Linked DNA regions of Homo sapiens: region 2 is linked to region 1. Evidence: fine-mapped expression QTL. Tissue or cell type: sun-exposed skin. Region 1 holds a variant in brackets; the other region holds the start of a gene. All regions are shown on one strand. Distances are between the middles of the regions.

Region 1 (10,642 bases):
AGATGGTCTTCTTACTCTGGACTCAGATGCTTTTGCTTATGTTCTTACTGAGTCGTCTCAACTGGATTATCAGATAGGAATTCATATTCCAATATTATGGAATTATGGGTGAAGAAACTGAGGCTCATAGATGAAATAACTTGCCCAAGAAACTCGCCCAGCTAATGGGTTTCAGAGTCAGGATTCAAAGCCAAGTTGGTGTGACTCTGAAATCCATACTGATTCCACTGTCCTGGGAATGACAGTGGGAAACCTACAGTGAAGATTCCAGCTCTGCCTTGCTGCTGTCACTGCCTCTGCCTTCTACTGTAAGTGCACACTGAGCGTTCACAGCATCTTTAAAACAGCACCCTGTCTTTGGCCCTCAGGAACCCCGGATGCATTCATGGCTGTCAGATCTCTTGGGGAAGGCAGTCACTGGGAGACAGGGTTCCAAGTACTGGCTTACCCTTGTCTGCACTGGCTGAAGCCATGCAGAGAGGAGTGTCTATAGGGAGGCCCCTCTCTCCTGGGAGTTAAGATACTTCAGTTGAGGTCCGTATTAGTCTGTTTTCATGCTGCTATGAAGACATACTCAAGACTGGGTAATTTATAAAGAAAAAACGTGGTCAGGTGCGGCAGCTTAAGCCTGTAATCCCAGCACTTTGGGAGGCCAATGCAGGCGGATCACAAGGTCAGGCGTTCGAGACCAGACTGGCCAACATGGTGAAATCCCGTCTCTACTAAAAATACAAAAATTAGCCGGGCGTGGTGGTGCTCACCTGTAATCCCAGCTACTCAAGACCCTGAGGCAGGAGAATCGCTTGAACCAGGGAGGCAGAGGTTGCAATGAGCAAAGTTCGTGCCACTGCACTCCAGCCTGGGCGACAGAGTGAGACTCCATCTCAAAAAAAAAAAAAGAAAGAAAAGAAGTTTAATTGACTCACAGTTCTGCATGGCTAGGGAGGCCTCAGGAAACTTACAATCACGGCAGAAGGCAAAACAGTCACGTCTTATATGGTCTCTGGCGAGAGATGTGAGTGCCCAGCCAAGGGGGAAGCCCCTTATGAAACCATCATATCTCATGAGAACTAACTCACTATCATGCTATCCTGAGAACAGGATGGGGGAAACCACCCTCATGATTCAATTATCTCTACTTAGTCCCTCCCATGAAACGTGGGGATTATGAGTACTACAATTCAAGATGAGATTTGAGTGGGGACACAGCCAAAGCATATCAAGGTCCAAGCTGGACAACCTCTGTGAGTGATCACTGGCAGTCTGTTTCACATTCTGGGCCTCAATTTCCTCATCTGTCAAATGGGAGAACTCAGTTAATCTGTAAGATTATGTTCAAGTCCTAAACTACTGTGATTTAAAATATTATCATGACACAAGCCCTCGTATTCGCACAGCCTTCTCTGGTTAACAAAATGTTTTCACTCATTGCTTACCATTCCACCAACACTGACTTCCATGGGCATGTGCTGAAGCATATGTTGGGCAATGCTGGGCAGTAGTGGCACAGAGAGATGGAGGCCATCGCCCTTGGGGAGCCACTAGTGCAGGTATAGATGCAGATAAAAAGGGAGAAGTAGGTAAGAGCATGTACAGGTTGAACAAAGAGCCCTGGGTGCTGAGGAGGGAGCTGAGGGGGAGGGGTAGTGCTGCACGTGACCCCAATCCCATCAAGTGGAAAAGGCATCTTTGCCTCCATTTTACCGATAAGGAAACTAAGGGTCAGAGAGAGAAATGACTGCTCAGATGCACATAGCCAAGAAGTGACCAGGCCTGCCTTCATTCTGGTATTTGTCTTTTGTCACAGTTTGCTTACCCTATAGGGGATATTGGGATGGAAGACGGGGGAAGGAATCTGAGCCATACCTGAAGATACGTGCAAGGAGTACTGTTTGGTGGGGAGGTGGACACATCAGCATGCTACTCTGGATTTTCAGGAAGCACAGCTTGACTACCTTGTAAATGTCAGGCCTTGGGCTGGGAGTCGAATCAGAGGGTTTCCTGGCCCAGGGGAGCTGCAGTCTGACCACACTAGGGTCAGAGCAGTGACAAACTGCAAGAAGCCCCAGCCTGGGAGTGCCTAGGGTTTTCTATCCAAATGAATTCATGGACGTGCATTCACTCATCCGCTTATCCATCTAATCTTTCTGAACACTGGTCTGAGCACTGAGCACCTGGGGCTGTAGCCCGTCTGCATCTGTGTTTGTGCCTGTTGCTCAGCGCCCTCGACACCTCCAGGGCAGGGGCCTGGTCTCATTTCTCTTTAGCTGACATAGAGGAGACTGGGCCAGACTATTCGGCGCCTCAGAGCCTCTCTCTGCTGCTCTCAGGGCTCCCTTTCCAGGAATGGGGGCTCTAGGCCAGGCTGCCAGGGTAGGGGAGAGGGCGTGGCCATGTCGGCCCCTATCCCCAGGTCGGCTGATAAGCTCCAAAGCAGTCGGGACTGAGGGCCTTGGAGCACAGCCATCAGCCACCCCGTGCCCCACGGTACTAATGAGGCAGCCACCTCCACGCCCAAACGCTGGGATGGGGGCCTGGCCTCTTAGCTCTCTGCTCCCCCTCTCTATCCTGGGTGGTCTTGCCCATTTGTTAGCTTTGGTGGGGGGATGGAGGATTCCTCTGCAAAGGACTGAGCTGTGGGGTCCCTGGGGGAGGGCAGCTGATTCCAGTAGAGAGGACACTTCCCTCCCAAAGTGTCTTTGTTCCCTAAGAGTCTGACCCAATTCTTTTCTTCCATCTGCCCCTGGATTGCCCTGCACAGAGGACAAAGGACCCCGGCGAAAGGGGTGGGGGAAGAGCAAGAAGGATCTCAAAGGGTCATTCTAGGGTTCACTCTCCAGCACCCCTTGACAGGATCTCTTGCGTGTGGGGAGCACAAGCCGACCTGTGCACGTGTGTGAGGTCAGGCGTGGACAGGTCTGTGGGACCACACGTACGGGCACGCGCACGGGGATAGTGAGTTCCATGGAGGCATCCTGTAGTAGGGAACCCGCGACGGTGACGCCACAGATGGGGTGCGGAGGCTCTGGTGGCCCCCAACCTCCATCAGGCCAGCCCTCCTCGCTTCCTTTGATGTGGACAAGACTGCCTTTTTTTTTTTTTTTTTTTTTTTTTTGAGACGGAGTCTTGCTCTGTTGCCCAGGCTGGAGTGCAGTCGCGAGATCTGGGCTCGCTGCAAGCTCCGCCTCCCGGGTTCACAACATTCTCTAGCCTCAGCCTCCTGAGTAGCTGGGACTACAGGCGCCCGCCACCACGCCCGGCTAATTTTTTGTATTTTTTAGTAGAGACAGGGTTTCACCGTGCTGGCCAGGATGGTCTCAATCTCCTGACCTCGTGATCCGCCCGCCTCGGCCTCCCAAAGTGCTGGGATTACGGGCGTGAGCCACCATGCCCGGCCGACAAGACTGCTTTTTAACCTTGTTGGAAAGAGCCACTTGGAGATCAGCCCGTCTAGGGGGACTCTTCTCGCCTCTTAGAGAAGAAATTACGGGGCGCAGAGCCGTGCACCCGAATATCCATGCATCCGAATTCCAACTCCGCTCAGAAGCCTGGGGCAGACTCCCCGCCCCACCCAGCGAACGAGCATGTGGCCGGGACCTGGGTGAGGATTTCCTCGCCAGCCCTCCTTGGCACAGAGCTGTGCATCTCACGACTCCTGCGCGACCCCGGGCCAGGCCCTATTAGTGTCTGGGCTTCGGGCATCTAGTCTGCAAAACCGACTGTGTCGCTTTTCTCGGGCTGCGGCTCCGCTGGGGAGGCTGCGGCAGGGGAAGGCTCGGCAGAGCGCAGGCCGCGGCCTACTGTGCCCAGCAGCCCCCGCTGCCCTCCCCTTTGGGGCCCCGGCCCCCCGCCAGACAGGTATCGGGCAGCCC[C/T]GCCCCGCCGCCGGCACACTGGCAGCTTTGTTACCTGCCCTGGCGCGCCCGGCCTACGAGCGCTACGTGCTGCCGGCCCGCGGCCCCCTCCTTCCCCTCCCCTCCCCGTCCCCGCCCCACATTCCCGGGCCTGGGGCTGCGGCAGCTCCAGGCGGGTCTTTGTGAAGCTGGACTCTGGCACCCCTCTCCTGCGTGGGCTTTTGGGGTCGGGGCCCTAGCGCCCTTCGCCCACTTCATCTCGCCCCTTTCCTTGCTCGGCCACCCTCAAAGAAGCCAGACTTCGCCTTCCCGTCCCCTGCGACCCCCCTGCTTGCAATGGCCGCCTTCCCCACCCTCAGTCGCACCCTAAGGCCCAGTTCAAAGGCTGCTTCTCAGAAGCCTCCGCTGATTCCCAGTTTTAATCACTCTCCCTGGGGCACCCGCTTTGCCCTGATCGCTTGTCTTTGAACCCCTCCAGGTCCTGGGTGGGGCCGGCATACTGCCTGGCCGCCCAGGAAAGTCTTCTGTGGGTGATAGGATGAGTGAAGCTGGAGACCGATAGGGATGGAAACCGAGGTCTCCCAAGTCTAGCGTGGAGTCCCGTCCACCGTCTGGGCTGATGTCTGAGCTTCCCTCTCGGGACTCCGTGTGTGCCCTGAGGCCCTTCATTCGCGTGTCCATGCCCAGCCACACTGCACACCCGGTACCCCTGGCCTCCCAGCCTTTTCCTAGGCTGCCCCTTCTGCCGGATACACTCTCCAGCCACTAGGGCAAAGCCGGCCTCTCCAAGGGCCATCTCTCCTGGAGAAGCCGTGCCTGATCCTTGGGGCTTTGCGGTAATCAGTTCACCTGACTTTTTGTTCCAGAAGCATTACATGTAAGTTACATTTGACCTTCACTGCAGCCCTGCAAACTAGTGATGCGATGTGGCCCGAAAGTGGCTGGCCTGGGATTTGACCTTGGTTCTAGAATGACGTCAGACTTCACAAGACATCAAAGACGGGTTCTTTCTTCCACCGCGTGCTGTGGCCTTTCTCTCCCAGGCCTTCCCCCAAGGACAGATGTTCCTCCCCACCTAGCCCCGTCTCTCCTGCTTTCAAGCTGGAGCAGGGCGGGGTTGGGATTCTTGCTCTAGGGCTAGGCCAGGGGCTGGGTCCCCTGTGGCTTTGGGCCTCCTTGAAGAATTTCGAGGGAGGATGTGCAGGGCGTGGGGAGAGGTGAGGCAGGAATGTGGGGCTCCGGAGGGAAAGCAGTCAAAAGTGGAGAGGGCCTCCGGAGGTGGCTTTCCCAGGGCCCTGGGAAGCAGCGGCCTGTTTGAATGACAAAGGTTCCCTGGAGAGCAAAGGAAAGCTCTAGAGGATGGGAATGTGGGAGGAGGAGGGTCAGAAGGGTGGGGAGGAAGCTGCCCGTGGGCTCCCATCTGCAGCGGCCCTTTCAAGTCCTGCTAAACCCTTAACAATAAGAGGAACTGACCAGTGGACACACGCAAAGGATGATTAACGTAGTTCACTGAAGAAATACAAAAACCTGTGAAAACGCTAGAAATCCCAAAGTACAAATGAAAAAAAAGAGTATGCTTTTTCCTATCTATAGAACTGGTCAAGATAATAGAAGTGAAAACACCAGATGTTGGTGAGGTGTGGGAAAGGGAGTGCTTTTTTCACTGCTAAGGAGGTAAATTGTACCACTTTTCTGCAGGAACATGTCACAGTATGTACAAAAGCCTTTAAAAGAATTAGAATTTGACTTAGCAATTCTGTTTCTGGGGCATATCCTAAAATAAAAGATTATTTATCCCAGTCTTATTTATAACTGGGAAAAACTGGAAATTCTCTAAATGTTCAATGACAGGGAATTGGGTAAGTAGGTTATGCCTCATTCGCAGACTGAAGACTGCAGAAATTAACTGTCATGTTCTTGAAGAATATGAAAGACATGGGAAACACTGAAGATAAGCTGGTAAGTGAAAAGAGGAAGTTGTAAAACAGCATGACTCCAATTTTATACAGTAACTGTATAAATAATATCTACCATGCATGGTGCTGGACTGGGAGCCAATCCCAATCTCCCATTCGAGCATCACAGCAGCCCTGGAAAGAAGATTCTAGTAACTGCATGAAAAAAAAATAGATATATATTGAATACATATATTTTGCATATATAATGTATATATTGAATATATATATTCAAAGAAATATATATGCGAGGAAATGCAACAAAATGTTAACAGCAAGGGGAGAGGGCATGTGTTTTTACTTTTTTCCTTCATTCTTTCTAATCTTTTCCCAATTTTCTTTTTTTTTTTTTTTTGAGACAAGTTTCACTCTCATTGCCCAGTCTGGAGTGCAGTGGCGCCATCGCAGCTCACTGCAGCCTCCGCCTCCCAGGTCCAATTCTCCTGCCTCAGCCTCCCAAGTAGCTGGGATTACAGGTGCCCGCCAACACGCCCAGCTAATTTTGTGTTTTTAGTAGAGGCGGGGTTTCACCATGTTGGTCAGGCTGGTCTCAAACTCCTGATCTCAGGTGATCCACCTGCCTTGGCCTTCCAAAGTGCTGGGACTACAGGGGTGAGCCACCACACCTGGCCCCAATTTTCTTCAATAAAAAATATAATGAAGACATTACCAAATTTGAAATCACAAAAATTATTTGTTCAAAAATATCTTCAGGATCCCCTGTTTTGGGGGTGGGTGGCAGTTTTCCCTTTATTAATTTACTGGGGTTTCCATAACAAAGTACTACAAATTAAGGGGCTTAAACAACAAAAATGTATTATCTCACAGTTCTGGAGGCTGGAAGTCTTACATTAAGGTATTGGCAGGGTTAGTTCCTTCGGAGGGCTGTAAGGGAGAATCCGTTCCATGCCTCTCTGGTATGGAACATGCCAGGTGAATTCTGGTAGCTTCCCATGTTCTTTGTCTTGTTTCTTCTTGTGTCTCTTCCCATCTTTTTTCCTCTATGCTCGTCCATCTCCTTGTCCAAATTTCTGTGCCCCCTAGCCATTTTTTTTGTTTGTTTTTTGTGTATGTTTTTTTTTGAGATGGAGTTTCGCTGTTATTGCCCAGGCTGGAGTGCAGAGGCGCCATCTCGGCTCACTGCAAACTCTGCCTCCTGGGTTCAAGGGATTCTCCTGCCTCAGCCTCCCAAGTAGCTGGGACTACAGGTGCATGCCACCACACCTGGCTAATTTTGTATTTTTAGTAGAGACGGGGTTTCACCATGTTGGTCAGGCTGGTCTCAAACTCCCAACCTCAGGTGATCCGCCAGCCTCGGCCTTCCAAAGTGCAGGGATTACAGGCGTGAGCCACCGCGCTTGGCCCCAAATGTCCCCTTTTTATAAGGATACCAATCATATTGGTTTAGGGTCCACCCTAACGGCTTCATTTTAACTTGATTACCTCTGTAAAGACCCTGTCTCTAAATAAGGTCATATTCTATGGTACAAGGGATTAGGACTTCAACTTATGAATTGAGAGGGGAGGGGCATAAATTTTGCTCCCTCTCAAATGGGTGTGGCAGGGAGGGGAAGTCCTCTGTAGGGATGAGAGTCTATCTTGCACCACAGTGTGACCTTGGGGAGGTTGTTTAGACTTCATAGACTGGGGCTGACATTACTCACCCTCCAGGGTTGTAGTGAATGAGGGTAATTGCTAAAAAGTCCCTTCCCCGGGTTGGTCATCCCTAGGAAGTATCTTATCTGTCCCTTGTTCCTTATCAACATGGACGGCTGGAAGAGCACTGGCCCAAGGACATCACATAGAGCTGGGTTTGAGTTCTAGCCCCGTCTCTAGCTGTGTGGTCCCTGTGAGCCTCTGTTTCCTCATTTGTGAGATGGGAAAAGTATCTATTCCCATTGAGTTGTTGTAGCTAGAAGATAGAGATAAGATGAGGAAAGCCAATGGCAGTAAGAATGCTATAGAAGACCGGAGGCAGTGGGAGGCATCAGCCTGATTAGTCTGAGGTAGCTGGCCTCTCCTTTAGGAAGTTTTCCTTCAGCCCCACAACTTGGATTAGACTCTCCCTGCCATCCTGGGCTCCCACAGTCTCCTCTGCTACCCTCCACACCCCACCCCTCTGTTATGGCACTTGTCACACCCTACCATAGCTGTCTCTCTAGAATTATAGAAGCCTCCCTGAAGGAAGAGACCATCACCTCTGCATGCCCGTTAAAGTAGCAAATATGAATGAAAAAATAGTAAAACCCACTGCTGGCAGTGTTGCAGGTGTTGAGGCTCAGAACGTGATAGCCCAATGTATGGCACTTTGGCATGCTGAGTACTTGAACTCAAAGAGAAGCAAAATATCCAGGCCCTGTGTCTCCCGCTCCTCTTTCTCCCTTGAAGCAAATCAGAGAAAACAGAATTCCTATTCCCCAAAGCACGTCATAGAAACTAGAACCTCTCTCCCCCTAAGCCAGCCATAAAATCTAGAAAGGTTACACTCTCTGTTTTCCCTTGCCCCTTGAAGACCCTCATCCCAGAGCAGTCCTGCCCCATACACTGCAGGAAGGAATGCTTCGCAAGGAGACCAAAAAGAATCTGGATAGGCTTTGCTGGATCTCCCTGCTCAGTCTATTACCATGAGGTCATGCCCCTTTGTCCAATCACATCTCCACATGGCTGTTCATTCCTCATTGAACCTAAACACAAAACACAGTTTTCTCTAGGCTTTTGGGTCTTTATTTCTGAAGGCTCCTATGTCATGTAAAACTTTGATTCAATAAATTTGTTGTGCTTTTTTCTTGTTTATCTGTCTTTTATTATAAGAATAACCTTGCTTGGTATGGTGGCTCACGCCTCTAATCCCAGCACTTTGGGAGGCTGAGGCGGGTGAATCACCTGAGGTCAGGGGTTCAAGACTAGCCTGACCAACATGGAGAAACCCTGTCTCTACTAAAAATACAAAATTAGCCAGGTGTGGTGGTGCATGCCTGTAATCCCAGCTACTTGGGAGGCTGAGGCAGGAGAATCGCTTGAGCCTGGGGGACGGAGTTTGCGGTGAGCCGAGATCGTACCATTGCACTCCAGCCTGGGTGACAGAGTGAGACTCCGTCTCAAAAAAAAAAAAAAAAAAGAATAACCTTATGATGGATGAGGAAAGGTATCATACCTTTCCTGTATACATAGTGGTGATGTGAATAAACACAATCTTTCTGGAGAACTATTTAGCAGTTCTAATAAAAACCACACACTTAAGTACAACCCCTGACCAAGAGAAACCAGTTTGGGGAGTATATTCCAAGTATCTAATGCAAAGGTGAAAAAAAAAAAAAACTTGCTGTGTAAAGATATTTTGAGCTGACTATGTGTCATGAAGAAGAGTGGAAAAATAATGGTGCAATGAATTTGTAAACTGCAAATGATGGCAGCTTGGTTCACACTGTGACAATTCAGCACAGTCCAGGAAACATTAACTGAGTACAGAGCATGTGTGAGGTCCTGGATTCCACTCTGGGAACCCAGACATGTCCCTGCACCAACTAGTGGGTAGACAGGCAGGTAGACTATCACCATACAGTGTGAGCAGATGAGAGAAGTGGGGGCGAGCACACGTGGAGAAGTTAACTCATGGGAAGGAGGGTCAGGAGAGCTTCTTGCAGGGGGAGATACCTGAGCTGGCTTCAAGTGGACACTGGTGGGAAGGAGAATAAACAACCTAGATGAAGGTGGGGGGCATTTGTGAAATGGCAAATCATAGGTGTGGCTGGAGGGTGGAATACATGCGGTCATGATAAGGCTGGAGAATATGGCCAGAGGCAGATCATCAAGGGCCTTGAATGCCAGTTCGTGCTTTACCCAGCAGAAGTGGAGAAGCCAACAGACATCTTTAAAGAGGTGAGCAAGAGGATCATCTTTGTGATTTAGGAAGATCATGGGGTAGCCATTTGGAGGATGGACTGGAAAGGCCAGCAGGCAGGGGGAGCCTGTTGTAGGGTCCAGGTAAGCCATGGTGACAAAGCCTGGGGATGGAGAGAGGGAGGCAAGGTCATGAGATATTTATGAGCCAAAAGAGACAGATAACTCTTGGTGACTGACAGGATGCTGGGGGAGAGGCAGAGGCAGAATTGTGGCAGGTAGTGCCAGCAACTGACAGGGAACATGAGAGGAGGAGCCCGTTTTGGGGGAAAAGGGATGAGTCCAGTTTGGTATCTGTTGGGTTTGAAGTACCCATGGGACGCCCAGATGGACAGGGGAGTGGGCAGCTGGGTATATGAATCTGGAGCTCAGGAGACAGGGCTGGGCAGAAGATTAGGTTTGGAAGGAATAGACTAGAGGTATGAATTGGAGCCCAGGGCCACCAGAGCCCACCCTGGGAAACAGTTTAGTGGGGGAGAAGTACCTGGACAGCGCCCACTGTAAAGGGTCGGAGGAGCAACAGGCACTCTGGAAAGGATCTTGAGAAAGATCCAAGAGGTGAAAAACCGGGAAGATGTGTCTCATAGAAGCCCAGGGAGGAGAGTGCAAAAGGGGAAAAAGAGCAACAGTATTTTAAGTGTTCAGTTTTTGCAAATTAAAACCACAGTGAGATACCACTTTGCCTTAATGCAAGAATGACCATAATTAAAAAGTCAAAAGACAATAGATGTTGGTATGGGTATGGTGAAAAGGGAATACTTTTACACTGCTGGTGGGAATGTAAATTAGTACAATCACTATGGAAAACAGTATGGAGATTCCTTGAAGAACTAAAAGTAGATCTACTACGTGATCCAGCAATCCCACTACTAGGTATGTACCCAAAGGAAAAAAAAGTCATTATATGAAAACGACACCTGCACACACGTTTTTAGC
Region 2 (10,642 bases), 50 kb before region 1:
CTCTAATTTAGGGCACGGGGCCAGTCTCACCACATCCACTGGGGGTAGCCAAGTCTCTATTTACTGAGAAGGAAACCAAGGCTCCAAGGAAAGCCACTTCTTCAAGGTCAGAGTTTAGTGGGAACATCTAGTGTTTTGTTTCCATTCACAGTAGAGTTTCAGTTGTCAAGTTACGTCTAATCCAACTTTCAGGCTCCTATGGCATGGCAAGTCCTGTGTCTGGGGATTCCTGCTCATTTGGGGTGGGTGGAGGATGGCACAGACAGGCATGTGGAGAAGAAAGCATCTTTAAAAAAAAAACACAGCTAGGCCAGGCGCGGTGGCTCACACCTGTAATCCCAGCACTTTGGGAGGCCGAGGTGGGCGGATCACCTGAGGTCTGGAGTTCGAGACCAGCTTGACCAACATGAAGAAACCCCATCTCTACTAAAAAAAAATACAAAAAAATTAGCCGGGCATGGTGGCACATGCCTGTAATCCCAGCTACTCGGGAGGCTGAGGCAGGAGAACCACTAGAACCTGGGAGGCGAAGGTTGTGGTGAGCTGAGATTGTGTCATGGCACTCCAGCCTGGGCAACAAGAGCGAAACTCCGTCTCAAAAATCAAAACAAAACACAGCTCCATAGAACGCCTCAAATCTTTTGTGATAGCCTTATCTCGGACAAATCTCTTCCCTTCTCTGGACTCAATTTCCCCATTTGTCAAATGGAGGGCTGGGCCATGGCTGGAAGGCCCCTCCTGCTCTGGGTTCCTTCCACCCTCTAATGTCATCCTGGAAAGGCTGGCAGCATGTCTTGGGGTGGGAGGCTCAGTGTGTGATCTTGGCAAAGTCATTTTTTATTGGACCATGAGGTCACTGTAACTTGTATCACAGGGCAGTTGTGAGGACCCTTGGAGTTAATGGACATGAATGTCCCTTTCAAACTATCCCAAGGGTGACCCAAATTCAGAAAGGTAGGCAGGAAGCCTAAGGCAAAAAAGCAAAGCAAAGAAGCCCAAAGCAGCGCAGGGCACTCACATGAGCTGACCCTCCCTGGCCTGGCACTCTCACCCATGTGCCATGCCTACTCACTTCCCAACAAGCCCCTACTAGGAAGAATGGGTTAGTGGGAGCTTTAATGATTTACCTGACTTAATACCCATGGGCCAGCATCCTGACTCCCCAAAAGCTCATACTGCCAGAATGCCAGCTTTTGGATAAAGGCCAAGGCCCAGGTACAAGTCACCCACAGCCCAGGTAAGGCATCATGGGAGTCCAAGGAAGCAAGAAATATTTATGGAGCATCTATGGGGACAGAGACGTACATTCTTTTCTGAATTCCTAGACACTGTAATGATGAAAACTGGGCAACTAAGCTAAGCTGGGATTCAAAACCACATATGCAAACATCTATGTTTGGCCGGGTGCGGTAGCTCACGCCTGTAATCCCAACACTTTGGGAGGCTGAAGTGGGCGGATCACCTGAGCTCAAGAGTTCGAGACCAGCCTGGGCAACATGGCGAAACCCTGTCTCTACCAAAAATACAAAAATTTAGCTGGGCACGGTGACGCATGTCTGTGGTTCCAGCTACTCAAGAGGCTGAGGTGACAGAATCGCTTGAGCCTGGGAGGTAGAGGTTGCAGTAAGCCAAGATACTTGCCTGGGTGACAGAGTGAGACCTCGTCTCAAAAAAAGACAAAAAACAAAAAACTATGCTGTCTGCACCACAAAGGGGCTGAGAAAGCCTGCAGATTTCTGATTTTTCCTTTTCTGGAAGGTAGAGACTGGCCAGAAAAGTGATGAGTGATGGGCATAGGCAAGGCTAGTTACAAGTTCTTCACGAAGGGTGGGGTGAGACATCTGGGGCAGGGCTCACCCTTGCGTGCTGCCCAGGAGAGATCGTGGGCGAACCCCTGGCTTGTAGGCAAGGTGATTCCATCTGTCCCCTACTTCCTATTCAGCTAAGCTCATTACTGTGAGTTACAGAGGAGCACAATGGAACACGGGGAAGTTAGTTAAGTCAGTTCCCATTTCCTAGGAGACAAAGAGGAACATAGCAGAACCAAGGCTTTGGAGCCAGACACACCTGGTTTTCAGATCTTGTGTGAAAGGCAAGCGATATGACCTCCCCAGGCCTCTAACATCATGCACAAAAAGGCTGTGCTTGCAGGTCAAATCAGCAGTCTCCAAAGGGAAGGGCTTTATTCCAGAATGTATATGGAATGATCTACACAAGATTTGGAGGGGAAAATGACTATAACTGCTGTCTTGTATCTATCTGTCTTTTGAAATTTCTATTTTATGAAGGCATATCATCTGTTAGTATCAAACTGCATGTGCATGAATTTAAAAATACAGCCGGGCGTGGTGGCTCACGCCTGTAATCCCAGGCCTGTAATCCCAGCACTTTGGGAGGCCGAGGCGGGCAGATCATCTGAGGTCGGGAGTTCGAGACCAGCCTGACCAACATGGAGAAACCCCGTCTCTACTAAAACTACAAAAAAAAAAAAAAAAAAAAAAAAAACATTAGCTGGGTGTGGTGGCACATGCCTGTAATTCCAGCTACTCGGGAGGCTGAGGCAGAAGAAACGCTTGAACCCGGGAGGCAGAGGTTGCAGGGAGTTGAGATCGCGCCATTGCACTCCAGCCTGGGCAACAAAAGCGAAACTCCGTCTCAAAAAATAAATAAATAAAAATAAAAAAATAAAAATACAGATACACCACTGTGAAAGAGGTGTTCCAACATTAATTACTGACGAGGTAGACAGTGGAAAACTTGGAGAACACTCCATGAAGAGCACCCACCTGCTACACTATTTAGAACCAGCTGGCACAAGGGGCCACCTTTGAAGATAGGCAAACTCTCTCCCTTCTGCCCAAAATTCAAGAAATGTTGTGGTGAAGAGAGACAGTGGAGACAGAAATGAAATTAAATCTGATGGGCCTGGGTTCAAATCCAGTTCAACCACTTACTAGCTGTGTGACTTTGGCAAACTTATTTCCCTTCTCTGAGCTCCAGGCTAGTGAGTAACCAGCAGGGCTATAAGGTCCGTGACGCTTAAAGTAGTTTGGCTAAGAACCTGCTGATTTTCTCCTCCACTTTTCTGTCTCCACGTAGTATTCCCTTATCCACTCAACAAATAAATACCCATGTCTGGCATAGTATGCTGAATAGATAGTTCCTTCCCTAGAGGAAGTGACAAAAGTGATCTCTTTCAGATGGAAAAACTGAGGCCCAGAAGTTAAGTGGCCTGCAAGAGCCCTGAGATATTTGGACTTCCTTGCCACTAGCTAGAAGAGCTTCTCACTGAACTTTTGTTTAGTTATATCCCACCCTTACGGCTCACCTAAGATCCTGGGAGCCTTCCCCGGGAACTTCCCCGGGGTCTCACCTCAAGCGAGGGCCCAGGAAGGGTGAACCAAGTCGTCTGGATTTATGGATTCAACAGGTGTGGGGCGGAAGGCCTTTTCCTGCCGAGGGTGCGGCCCAGCGCCACCCCGCTCAGTCTCAGCGGGACACCTCCACAGCCAGTAGGAAGGGCAGTTCAAAATTCAGTGCTACCCCCGCGTCCCAGCTAAGAAAACAAGGGCCATCCAGGTGCCCTCCCAGCTGACGAGATGGAAAAATCAAAGTATAATAGATAAAGAGGGACCGTTTCAAAAGAAAAAGGGGACTTGAAAATATTGTAGACTAGGGGGAGGAAAGGAGGTGGAAAGAAACAATGCCCTACACACAGGAGGGGCTCCACAAACAATTTGTTGAAAAGAAATCGCTCTGCGGACGCTACAAAGATGCCCTGCAGGACAAGCCCACTTACACAGAAAAAAAGAAATCCTATCTAGGGAGTTGTTGGTCCCCAGAGTCCCCATCCCTCATTCCCCAACCCCGTGGCGTGCGCGCTTCCCGCTAGACTTCAGCCTGGGGCTCTTTCCTGGCCCCCAGATCCCCCGCCCCTCCGGTTGCGCTCCCCGCCTGGCCCCGAGGGTAAACCTGCCTCCGCGGAACACATCTCCGCGAGACTGGGCCAAAGCTTTGGGGCCTGCACTCCTCGCAAAGGAGAGCCTCCGAGACCGGAGGTTCATCTCAACCCCCGCGTTCGAGCCCGGGCCTGGAGAAAAGTGCCCTCCCCTCGGCCTCGGCCTCGTCACCGCGGGGGACTGGCGGGAGGAGTAGGGGAGGCCGGTGGGACACCTCGCACCAGGCCGCCCACCTACAGGGGCGTCCGGGCTAGGGGAGCAGACGGAGAGCGGGGGCGGCTCCTGACTCCTCCGCGCGCCGGGGCCGGGGCCGGGCCGGGGGCTCGGCCCGCTCAGCCAATGGGCGCCGCGCTCGGGCCCCCTCCCCCGCACCGGGAGGGGCCGAGGCTGGGCTGCTGCTGCCGAGGTCGTGTGCGACGTGCCGCTCCCGGGCCCTGTGTCCCCAGCCCCAGCAGGGCCGCGTGGACGGCGCGGCGCCCCCGGAAGGAGGCCATGTGCTCAGTGCCGGCGCCAACTACGCACGCGGCGCCCTCCGGCCCGCTAGATCCGAAGCCCATCCCCACTGCGGCCAGCGGCCCGGCGGGGCGCTGCGCTCGGGACCCGCACCGAGCCAGGCTCGGAGAGGCGCGCGGCCCGCCCCGGGCGCACAGCGCAGCGGGGCGGCGGGGGAGGCCCTGGCCGGCGTAAGGCGGGCAGGAGTCTGCGCCTTTGTTCCTGGCGGGAGGGCCCGCGGGCGCGCGACTCACCTTGCTGCTGGGCTCCATGGCAGCGCTGCGCTGGTGGCTCTGGCTGCGCCGGGTACGCGGGTGGCGACGGGCGTGCGAGCGGCGCTCTCCCGCTCAGGCTCGTGCTCCGGTCCGGGGACTCCCACTGCGACTCTGACTCCGACCCCCGTCGTTTGGTCTCCTGCTCCCTGGCGTGCTCACTCGGGGACCCGCGACTAGCGACCGGCACGCTCGCTGTTGCTACCTCTTGCCTCTTGCCAGAGAGCGCGCGGACCGTAGCGTTTATAGGACCCCGGCCATTGGCTGGCGACGCCGGTGTGTCAGGGGTGTGTGGGCAGGACCTCGGGGCGGGGCCTGGGGCCCAGCCTGTCCTGGGCGGCGCTCTGCGGGGAGGGGGTGAGGGGAGTGGCCGGGGCCGGGGCCCCCCCTAACCACTGCCTCGCTCAGGCTGCCGATCGGCTCGTTCTCTCTGCGTTGGGACCGCGGAGGGCATTCGCTGTGTGACTCAGGGCAAGTGTGCGCACCTCTCTGAGCCTCCGCGGCCTTCTCTAGCAAAATGGTGGAGCCGGTACCCGGCTGTAAGGCAAGCTGGGATGCGCGGAGTAGCGGGTGGAAAGCTGGACTGGAGTTCTCACTCGGCCGCTGGGTGACTTCGGTGCACTAGGGATAGTAACAGTACCACCTCGTAGGGTTGTAGAAAGACCAAGTGAGTTAATATTTGTAAAGTGTTTAGAACAGCGTCTACTGCATGGAAAGTAGTATTTATTTGTTAGAGAGACTCCAGGAGGTCTTGCCCAGGGATTGACTTCTCCCTTCCCTGTCTCCACCCCCCACATTCCCGTTTGTGAGCCAAGCCTTGCTTTTGCACCGGCCGGGCTCTCTTGCCTGGAAATGCATACCCATCTCAAACCTGGGCTTTAAAATCACCTCCTCTGGGACGCCTTCCTCTACTTCTCACAGTTCAGGTGAGTCTATGGTGACCTGTAAGTGTGGAAAATATGAAAGGCAGGCTAACTGACTGACATGATAGGACATTAAGGACATGATAGACCTCGGGTTTGAACCAGCTCAACTGTATACTGGCCCGGCCGCGATCCTGGGCGAGTTCCTGGCCAGTGAGGCTGTTTTCGTTTTTTTCTTTAATTTTTTTTTTTCTCAGACAGAGTCTCGCTCTGTCGCCCAGGCTGGAGTGCAGCGGCACGATCTCGGCTCACTGTAACCTCCGCCTCCCGGATTCAAGCAGTTCTCTGCCTCAGCCTCCCGAGTAGCTGGGATTACAGGCGCCCGCTATCACCCCTGGCTAATTATTTTTATTTTTAGTAGAGACGGGGTTTCACCATTTTGGCCAGGCTGGTCTTGAACTCTTGACCTCGTGATCCACCCACCTCGCCTCCCAAAGTACTGGGATTACAGGCGTGAGCCACTGAGCCCGGCCGAGGCTGTCTTCTTATGAGTAAATGGAATTCCCACACCAATCTCATTGCTATCAGGAGAGGTGCAATTTCCAGATAAGCTCATGAAGTGTTTAGCATGGAAGTTCTCATTTACTGGTTGGTGGTATTGTTGGTTTATTTATTTAGTCTGTTAGTAAATAAATAAATGCTGGTCTCAAACTCCTGGGCTCAAGTGATCCTCCCACCTTAGCCTCCGTAGTAGCTGGGAGTGCAGGCATGTGCCACTGCACTGGTAGTGGTATTGCTATCATCTGACTTCACCTTATTTCCTCTAGACCAGTGCCTTACTTGAGACACAGTGAAGGGAAGGACCCCCAGTCCAAAGGTCTGATCAAAGTCTTGAGGGTCCCTTTCCCGATGGAGGGAGTCATGGTGGGCTTACTGTCTGTCGGAAACCGGGAGGCTGAGCCGACCAGATGACCCCTGGAGTTCTCTGGCAATGTGTCCAGTTCTGGCTGAGGGGCACCTTGGTTGAGTATGGAGCCCTGAAACAGAAGGCAGGTGCATTCTGGGCACCCCCCTGCCCAAGGCTTCAATTCCTGTGGTCTCTCTATGCTCAGCCTGGAAAGCTTGGGCCACCTCTCTCCTCACCCCTGGACAGACCAAGTCCTGCTGACTCCGCTGTCTACACCACCTCATCCTCCTTCCCTCCCCTGCTGTCTGCAGGGCCTCCATCTCCTCTGGTCTTTTGTCCTCCAGTCCTGCACCCTGCCACTCTCCTGCTCATCTGTCTGAAATTGTCATGGAGGGAGTAAGGGCCAAGCCTGGCCATCACGGTCCTTCTTCATGGCACCAGTTTACACGCTCAGCCTCGCCCCTCACACCAGCAACTCACATCCACACATTTGCTCAGCTTGTCTCCTCTGCCTGGGAAGCCCTCCCCGACCTCACCATGCCAAAAAGCACCATGGGTCCTTCCTCCTCCGGGAAGTGTCCCTGGTTCTCCCAAGTGGAAATCTTTCTCTCCTTTACCATTTGGTGTTTTGTAGGTTGCCACTTGTCCTCTGTCTGCCTTCCCTCAGCCTGTGAGCACCTTGAGGACAGGTTCTGCAGCTGAGGCACGTGGGTGAATGACTGAAGGAGGGAAGGAATGCACGAATGAGTGAGCAGCTAATCTACCTGTGTTGAATGTTCCTTCCCCTCCAGTCCGTCCTGCTGATACTTCCAGTCTTTCCTTAAGTACCTTTTGGGTTTTGCTACTTCCCTCCTCAAAGTCTCTCCACAGCTCCTTGTTTCTTAGCACATCCAGTCTATGCCTTTTCCCAGTTGCGGGTCTGCCTTACTCAGCCCATGGGTCACACTCACCAAACAGCCACCTTGTCCTTCTCTGGGCCAGCCCCATGCTGGCCACTTTCCCAGGGACAGAGACATGTGACCCCATTGTTAGCCTCATGGAGGCCCCAAGCTGGAGGAGGAGCAAGAGGGGAAATGAGCAGCAACAATACCAAGTCAAGCGTAGAGGGTTAAGAATCTGTACAGGTGCAGAACTTGTACCACAGGGGAAGGAGAGTGAGTAGAGAGAGCATCTGGGAAGGGGGAGGTCATGCTAAGCAGGGTTTGGAAGACTGAATAGGAGTTCACCAGATGGATTGAGGGAAGGCCATTCTCAGCAGAGAGAAGAGCATGTGCAAAGGCAGCAGACTGCCAGAATGATTACCTAGGGAACGTGAGAATCTCTGGGCCACTCTTAGAGATTCATGATGGAGCCCCAGATCCGGACTCTTTGAGTCCCAGCTCTGCTATTTACTTGCAAACATTCATGGGCAAACAATGCCTTCTCTTCTCTGAGCCTGAAGACCCACATCTGTAAAATAGATATAACAAACCCTTCCTGGGTAGGCCTGAGGGAAAGTGGATGTTTATAAAGGCTTAGCTATGTAAACTGTACTCATTCTTGACGTGAGAAGTTCAGTCAAATCCCCATCCCATGGTAGGGCGGTGCTTGAGGAAAAAGCACAGTGGCCAAAAAAAAGCTTTTCCTTCACCCACCCCACCCCACCTGCCCACACACAGACCCCCATTACCTTCTCTGTGTTCCTCTCTGTGAATGTTTTATGACCCCTGGAGGCTACTGGTCAGAAGCAAATTCATCAGAAGCTATTGACGCTGCATCACAGACTAGATTCTCAGGTGGACTGGTTTGTTATTTGGGTGGCTGATTCCTTGGAAGCAGAATTTAACTCCAACTAGGGAATGAGCCCTAGAGAAGGCCCCAGGAAATAGCACATGAGCAGAGAAGGTTTGGGTGCAAGGGGAAAGGGGAGCAGGAGGGGCACCTAAGTAGCCCCTGTGGCTGGGGCATGGGGGCTTAGGGAGGAGAAGAGACTGAAGAAGTGGAATCACAGAGGCTCCCAAATGCCAGGTATAGGAGTTAGGGCTTTATGCAGTGGGTAGTGGCGAGCCATGGAGAGTTATTGAGCAGGGAAAGGACCTGAGGAAACCTCAGTGTCCCCACAAGCCTACTCTACCTGAGGCACTAAAGGGGGTGTGAGGAGGCTGTGGAACCCCAGCATTCAGCTTGAACGACCTAGTGCCCCTTCCCTAGTCTGCGCCCACACTGACAGCTTTATTCCCTGGAGGCTGCCTTTAGTCCTGGACGGAACTCGGCCTCTTCTGGGTCCGATTCTAAGCAGTTCCAGCCCCAGCTAGTCTGGAGGAAAAGAGCTCTCTGGGACTGGCTAGCAGGGAGGTGTCAGGTGCCAGGCGGATGCTGGAGCCTAGTGTGTGCCTCAGAGCACGCAAGTGGGTGGGGGAGGGGTGGTGGTGGTGATGGTGGTGGTGGCAGGGCCGTGCAGGGCGGGTCCTAGCAGCTCCAGAGTTAGGAGTGAGTAAGGCGGGCTGGGAAAAGACTCTGTTGCCTTTAAAGGCAAGCGTCCCTGGCAGCCAGGAGGAAAGGTTTTGCTGAGTCAGCTACAATTGGTACAAGAGGGGATAGCAGGGGCTGGGACGGAAGCCCCCCTAATCCAAAGGGTGTTTTGCAATTCAAATCCTCCTGGATTGCAGGTAAACACAGTGATGGATTCCAGGAAGGTCTGATGGGCCAGGCAGGACAGTTTTGTGTGTTTAATGTTTTCATTCTGATTTGCACATCTGCTTGAACCACCTGCTTTCAGAAAGCTTTTCGGCATCCCTTCTTTATCTTCTGTATGCCCTCCGACCCTCTGCAAATGCACTTATCAGGGCTACCACCTGCTCGCTGATGCTGGGGGAATTGAAGGCACATACTCCCCTCCCTTCTCTCCTGACTACCAGGCTTTTCTGTCCAGCTGCCTCCAGGATGTCCCTCTGGATGTCCCACAGGTCCCTCACACTCACCATGCTCAAACCTGAACTCATTATCTTTGCCCATCCCTTCCTGTCCCCACCCTAGAAATGGCTCCTCTAGCCACCAAATTGCCCTAGCCAGAGATCTGGTATCTTCCCTGACCCCTCTCTGTCTCCCTCATTCCCCATATCCAGTCAATCCCGTGGACTTTGCCTGCCCATCCCGTGGACTCTGCCTGCCCTCTCCATGCAGACAGTCCCTCCTCCAGCATAGGCTAGGACCACTATTCATTCATCCTCCTCCCTGCCACCACACTGGTCTCTTTAAAATGCACAGCTGACCACATCACTGCTTTGTTCAAACATCTTTCCATGGCACGCAATAATGTGGCTGAATCTCACAGACATATTGAGTGATAGCAGCTGTGCGAAAGAGTGTGATGTCATGTGTATAAAGTTTAAAAACAGGCAAAACTTATCTCCGGGGTAACAGTAGTTACCCTTGGAAGGGAGGGTCGCGACTCTGGGGGCGGGTGCTGGTAATCAGGGTGAGGCAGGTGGAGACCAGATCAGCAGTACTGATGTTTTTTCCTTTTGCCTCGAGCTTTAATATGACTCAGCACAGCATGTTACTAATCCTGTTTTTATTTAAAATTTTGATATTTTGTCATCATGGATTTTTTGCATTAATTCTGGTTTTTCAAAAATACTGCATTAAAAATATTATTTATCCTGATGACAGAGTCCGCCGCCCCCCTCTACCCCCCTCCACCCCTGCTTAAATTTTACAGGGGAGGTGAGTGCCTTTCTTGTGACACCCTGTTTCTGACCGTGTTGGTAATGTTGTTTCCTCATCAGGGTGCTGGTTGCGGGTGTGTTTAGTTTGTGAAAATGCATTGAGGTGTGTACATTTCTGATTTTCGTACTCTTCTGAATGCATATTTTGCTTCAATTAACCAAATTGAATTTTTTTTTTTTTTTTTTTTTACTTAAAATATTTCTGTAATTCCAAGGGAGTGTCTCCATCTGCTTCTTCCAGTGTCCCCAGCACCAAAAACAGCACCTGCCTCACACTGGGTCTCCTACATTTTTGTTGAATGAAGGAATACAACATTTCAGTTAATTTAATTCCAACAGCAACTCTATGAAATAAGTATTTCTCTATTTTCTTTTTTTTTTCTTTTTTTGAGATGGAGTCTCACTGTTGCCAGGCTGGAGTGCAGTGGCGCAATCTCGGCTC

Which allele goes with the higher level. Positions count from the first base shown, and alleles are read on the strand shown. Sizes are in standard deviations (SD) of each study's normalised expression.
With allele T in place of C in region 1, the expression in sun-exposed skin of the gene that starts at base 4,940 in region 2 is lower (small effect, 0.20 SD a copy in GTEx).

What was found. PIP is the estimated chance that this variant, and not a neighbour inherited with it, causes the effect.
Region 2: SLC2A1 starts here. The variant in region 1 is fine-mapped to the expression of SLC2A1 in sun-exposed skin (GTEx, PIP above 0.99). The same link has a PIP of 0.9 or more in unexposed skin.

The regions. Positions count from the first base shown.
Region 1 is chr1:43,003,710-43,014,351 of GRCh38, forward strand. No RefSeq gene overlaps it. Among named protein-coding and RNA genes, the nearest start is that of SLC2A1-DT, 50 kb to the left of the region's middle. RefSeq lists enhancers at 3,942-4,649, 4,650-5,358, 5,359-6,066 and a silencer at 4,879-5,173. The variant C/T (reference allele first, on the strand shown) is at 3,873.
Region 2 is chr1:42,953,929-42,964,570 of GRCh38, forward strand. It overlaps SLC2A1 (solute carrier family 2 member 1), which reads right to left and starts at 4,940. Exons shown (of 10, transcript NM_006516.4): 1 at 4,706-4,940. The coding sequence starts at 4,723. It overlaps SLC2A1-DT (SLC2A1 divergent transcript), which reads left to right and starts at 5,121. Exons shown (of 4, transcript NR_033967.1): 1 at 5,121-5,649. RefSeq lists enhancers at 1-142, 1,494-1,783 and silencers at 4,061-4,700, 4,831-5,240, 5,113-5,296, 8,750-9,044.